Regions from separate parts of the Homo sapiens genome. Here region 1 is linked to region 2. Evidence: fine-mapped expression QTL. A gene starts in region 2. The other region holds a variant in brackets. All regions are shown on one strand. Distances are from middle to middle.

Evidence for each region. PIP is the estimated chance that this variant, and not a neighbour inherited with it, causes the effect.
Region 1: its variant is the best candidate, but not a certain one, in a credible set for the expression of IATPR in whole blood (Lepik 2017, PIP 0.52).

The regions. Positions count from the first base shown.
Region 1 is chr10:33,194,997-33,197,912 of GRCh38, forward strand. NRP1 (neuropilin 1) reads right to left here. Exons shown (of 17, transcript NM_003873.7): 12 at 2,654-2,713. Among named protein-coding and RNA genes, the nearest start is that of IATPR, 80 kb to the left of the region's middle. The variant G/C (reference allele first, on the strand shown) is at 1,613.
Region 2 is chr10:33,115,510-33,118,425 of GRCh38, forward strand. IATPR (ITGB1 adjacent tumor promoting lncRNA) reads right to left here and starts at 1,298. Exons shown (of 3, transcript NR_160030.1): 1 at 962-1,298.

The sequences.
Region 1 (2,916 bases), 79 kb after region 2:
CCAGCTAAATCCCTTCTTGACTCTTAAAAATAGCAGGAAACAATATTCTGAACTTAAAACAAATTTACAGCCTCTGAGAGCAAGTACCAGCTGTGCTTGCCCAACCCATCTTGCCTGAAGTTGGATCATTAGCACCATATGTATGCATAAGGATTTAATTTTTATATCTGGTATTCCAAACTTCTATAGAGCAGTTTAACTCACTTGTTCATAGACTAGTCTTTCAGTCTAAACAAGCAGAGGTGCTCAGGCCCATACAATCGTAGGTGATGAATATACTCCGAACTGCTGCAGGAATGCTGGAGGAGCCTCAGAGGGTTAGAGCTCTCGCCAGAGAGAGCTAGATTAAAAATGTAAGGATCCCATCACTTGCTGGCAGAGCATTAACCAGCTTTTATGCATCTGATTACATAAAAGTATATAAATATTATATGCCCATGGAGTTTATTATATTGATGAGAATCAGCAAGATGAAATAGTAAGACTCTGAGTTGAGTCTATAATAGCAAAATGGAATTATGATGAAGGTTTTGAGGTCTCATTGACTGCTGCTTGTGATGATGCTTGAAGAATCTGGAGCCTGCAGAACAGTGTGGATCAAAGTATCAGGTGACTCAGGCCACTGGGTCAACTCTTCAGAGTTAGACCTGACCCCTGGCTTGAAGCATGCTCAAGTCCCCATGCAATATTCTGGGCATTGACTTAGCCAGAAGGTGACAATCAACAGAAGTCCTTCCAGGAAGGTCAGACAGCCCATTACCCACAAACAGAGCACTTGGAGTCCAGATTCATGACTCAGACAATGGAGAAACAGGAAAGCAAGTCAATTTGAAAAGAACTCTGCACTGACTGTGAAATGCAAACCGGACCTGACCACCCCTGATCAGTAGACCCGCGTGGTTTGGATTGAACTTGTTCAGATGGTGATAGCAACGGGTCCTACTGTTTGCAATTTGCATACCTGCCCTCTGACCACAGTAGACTCTGTGACAGGACCGACTGGCCCCTCTGAGAAGCCATCCCTTGAGTGACCTTGAGATTGTGCACAAATCAAATGTGTTAACAAAACCGCTCCTGCTCTGACAATATTGACCTTCAACATTCAGGGAAGATTACCTAGATTTGGAATCTGATAGAACTTTCCATTTTCTACACAGCTGTTGTTCACTTTTATTTTTTTTAACGATCCCTACCCCCTTTCATAGTCAAGGAGAAGAGAGATGAGATGAAACAAATTAGCTGGCGACTTCATAGTGGCTTTAATTACCTCTCTGGTAAGAGAAGAAACTGCAACAACAGCTAAAATGTTTGTTATATGATCAGAACTTCATTTGTTCACCTCACCCCTCTTCCCTATCCCAGAAAGGACATAGAGAACCAACTGGTGGTCACTACCCTTCATCCACAGAAAATCTTCCTGAGGGCTGAGAACTTTCAGGAAAGGTACAAAGAAAAGGAAAGGCACGGCTTTTTTCATGAGATACCTTCAGCTATGGGAGGTGCCTGCGCAGTCTTTGAAAGCCACATTTTACAACTTAAGATGTGTGTAGGACGACACCATTTTCTGAATTTAGGCAGTGACTCTTCTGTTTCATCTCTTGGTTTTGTAGAG[G/C]GTGTCTGGGCTGTGTGGTAGCAGGAATTTTGTCAACCTGAACATGCTACAGGGCAGCTGGGGGTTAAGTTTGACCAAAGAGAAGTTTGTTTTGCAGTTTAATCAGGTCAACAGTGACAGCGTCCTTTAAGGAAGCATACTAATTAGGGCGGCCCTTTCTACTTTCTGCCTAGCTGGGTAGTGTCATACCATAGAGGAAACATTGATATACACCACACGCCCCATTAATAAATGACTGCAGAAGCCAAGACTGAGTGAGCTTCAATAGAGGAAATGGGAGAAAGCTGGAAAACTGACCTGTTCACCTTAGTCTAATGATTAACTTTAAAGTATTTAAAACCTCTGATTGCTTATACTGACTGTTTCCCTTCATGTACGTCTGCCGGGAAGAATTTCACAGGATACTAACAAAACACAAAGGCCAGTGAGAGGAAGGCCACCGTTTAACCGTGACTGGCCCCTGATCGACAGCAAACCGAGGGCTTTAAAAGTCGTTACGCTTTTCTATTAATAAAAGGATGAGGAGGTGCTGTTCCCAAGGGTGTGCTTCTCTCTGTGCACAATTATAAACTCTGGTTTCCTGAACCCCGTTTTGTGGCACGCCCACTGGAAACACTGTTGTAAAACTGCCAACTCCATGGCAGGCAAAACTGACAAACTTTGCCTGCCTGGGTTTTGCAGGATTGGGATGAAAATAAATAGTCGGGCTGTGCTGCCTGTGAGATTTCCTTCTCCTGTAGTTTGCAAACACAATCCATGTCCTAGATGTGCTGCGTTTAAACAAAGTATGTTACTCCGTTCCTTCAGTGGAGAGCTGGGATTGTCACCATTTGGCAATTACTGATGGAGAAGGAAATCTCACTCCCTGCTGCATATACATGTGGATGAAAGGAAAGCAATATTTATGGCTCATGCTTGGAGACCAGATGCTGTGTGGCATCTCTCCTTCTAGGACTTTCAGAGAAACTGAAAGCGAGGAGCGCAGCCGCGGAGAGAAGAGAGGTACATGGAATCTGTCACATTTCGTATTTTATTTGATACCTGATTGTATGGTGCTGTCTATGACCGTGGGCTTTTCTGTGGCCAGCACAGTGGTGCCACCTGAAAAACAAAAACAGGAACATGCAAAAATAAGAAAACAGTAGCGAATATGCAGGAGAAAAATGTATGCTTACAAATGTCTATCAGAGGCAAATATTTTCCATAGAAAAATCCTTTTAATTTCAATGATAGCAATTGTTTCCCTTCAATTTTGCTCACCACAATATCAAATTCAAATAAACCATTATTTTTTTTTTTTACCT
Region 2 (2,916 bases):
GGAGAACCCCTTGAACCTGGGAGGTGGAGGTTGCAGCAAGCCGAGACCATGCCATTATACTCCATCCTGGGAGACAGAGTGAGACTCCGTCTCAAAAAACAAAAGGGGGTGGGGGGTGGGGAAGACAGCACTGCTTAGATATTAGAAAAAATCTGAGATTTCATTGCTTTTTCTATAAGTTATAAGGTGATACCATGGAACTGTGGGCAAGTCCCTCAACAATCTAAGCTTCCATTTCTTGATCTCCAAAACAGTGGCACCGAGGTTTGCCTTGCTTACTGCCTTGAGAAGTTCAGGAGAGACAGTGCTTGTGAAAGTGTGAGTCAATTACTATTTGTTTTCTTGCATGTGGCTTGTAAGGAAGTCAGATAACATAAGAGAAGTGAGTGACTGAGTGTTAAAGTGAATTACCAAGGATGCTGGAACTTGAAATGCTTTTGTGTGTAGCAATGCAGGCCGAGCTGCCACGTGCTATCCTGTGTGTCCCCGCTCTCCCCGCGTTGCAAGCCCGCAGAATGCCCCGCATCCACTGAGCCGTGGCCAGCCCTACGGTGGGCAAGCCTATCAAGCGCAAACATTGGGAGGGTTCTGACTCTCAAGTGTCTTACAGAAAATAGAGCCAGGAGCTCCATCTGGCACTCCATTTGCTAAATGTCCCATTGATGTCAAACGCCAGGAAATGTGGCTGTTTAAAATCCCAGGGAATAAGATTTCCACTCAGCAGCTTTCTAATGTACGCGCAGCACTCTGCGAAGCAAAAGCCCTTGCTGAGCAGTCTGGTCACAGCCCCTTACACACAAGCTCTCTGGGCCTCCACTAAGAAGTACAAAGACACAGGGCAGAGGAAAATGGACTTATCAGCTCCAGTGGCTTAAAATATGCCGGATGCCAATAGAGGGCACTGTTGCATATCCACAAAAGCCCACGCTCCGCAACCTAGCAAGACCACCAAAGCACTCACCTCCTTCCACACTCTGGCTGCAGTCCTAATGATGAACAGGAGCGATTAAAGTGGCAATCCCACAAAACACGGCTTCTGGTCAAAGTTCATGACTGCTTCATCACCACTTTGATATTTGCAAAGGGGCTTCATGATCATTTTCAGTCCTGAGTCATCTCCAGTACTTTTCTGCAGAATGCTAGATCTCTTAGCTTCACTTTTCAGAAGACTGAAATCCAGAGAGGTTAACTAGATGACTTGAGCCCATTCAGTCCAGAACTAGACAGAGATAGAAAACTCAGGGTTCCTGAATTCTACGCTGGAGAGTTTTCAGAACGGTGCATTGCGAGCTTTGAATGAAAAACATCAACAGCCTGCATCCGCTCTTGACTCTTTAGGGGAGGTTGTATGGCTTGGTGATTAACTGGGACTTCACAGGCAGGACTCCTGTCCCCACCACCTCCTAATTGTCGTTTATCCCAGTGGAAGTTGATAACTGATAACCAAACCTGCAAGTGAGGCCCATTCTGCAGCCCAAGAAGGAGTTAGGGAGGGATAGGAAACAGACACATAAAATCAGGCCAAATAGTGAAACTGATTGGAGTGCTTTGGGGTATCAATGTTGTATCCTAATTGTCCTTTATCACAGTGGAAGTTGATAACTGGTAACCAAACCTGCAAATGAGGCCCATTCTGCAGCCCAAGAAGGAGTTAGGGAGGAATGGAAAACAGACACATAAAATCAGGCCAAATAGTGAAACTGATTGGAGCGCTTTGGGGTATCAATGTTGTATCCTTCAGCGATCCCTCTCAACTATTAGTTAACTGAGAACAGATTGCCCCGAACTTGGGAGCTGTCAGATCTGTTTCTTGCACTCTCCCACCATTGACCCCTGACTCCTACAGAATCTCATTTTGCATCCCACATTCTGAAGGCATTGAATCATTTTTTTTGGCTAAGCACATGTTGGCTCTGGAGTCGCCTATATACAGAGTCTTTGCTGCTGCATTTGAGGCCTGGTGACATGTTATATTATGTAATGTTCTGGCAGTTAAGGAAAACTCACGCCCTCCCTGTTATGTATGAAGTGTCATCTCTAAAGCAGAGACTATTTCTTGCAAAATGGCATTGATAAATGGATAAACGAAACCAACTGACAACATCCCCGTAACAATGCAGTATCCTTCACTGCCAGTTTATTTCTAGAACACCATTAGGCAAAAAAGAAGGCTTTGTGGCCTAAGTAGGTGTTTTCATATATTTCGGAATGACAAATTAAGACGACAAGGATTTTCAGTCAGGCCATGACAGTAAATGTGCGCTTGTCACTTGTTGTAATGCTGTCCGGCAGGCCATAAGGGCCAGGCTTTACTGCATGGCACATTGGGGAGCCAAATCTCTCTGGTGGCATCTTTCTGTCTGGCACCTCACTCAAGTTAGAAAACTCAACCTAGAAAAGACTGTTGGTCCCTACATGGGCAAGTGTTACTTTCGCTATTACTAAACCCTGTGCCAGTCTTGGGGCAGTCGGAAAGGGTGGAGGAAAACAGGGTGCTTTGATGGCTCTGGCCTGGTCTCAAGTGACACACCCTAATCTGAAGGGTTTGTGCCCACATCCTCTCCGCTGCAGCTGGGTGGCTGTTGGCAATCACCTTTGCAAGCACTTGTGTGTACCATGCCAGCGGTTGCTCGTGCCAATTAGAACTCAGCTGGATCTTGATATAAATGGGCCATAGGCTAATCGTTCTGGGATACATCTTAAATTAGTCTGAGAGAGTCAGAGACCACTGTAAAACCATTTGGCCCAGAGTTTGTGCAAGTTTCTCTGATCCAAAATGGCACCTTGGTATCCAGCTGTCTTGGATGCAGACAACTCTTTCACCTCGGGTCATCATCAAATGCCAAACACAAAAGAAATCCTAACCTCTCACTTTACACAAGAGGAGGCCAAGGCTCAGAGAATTGTAAAGACTTG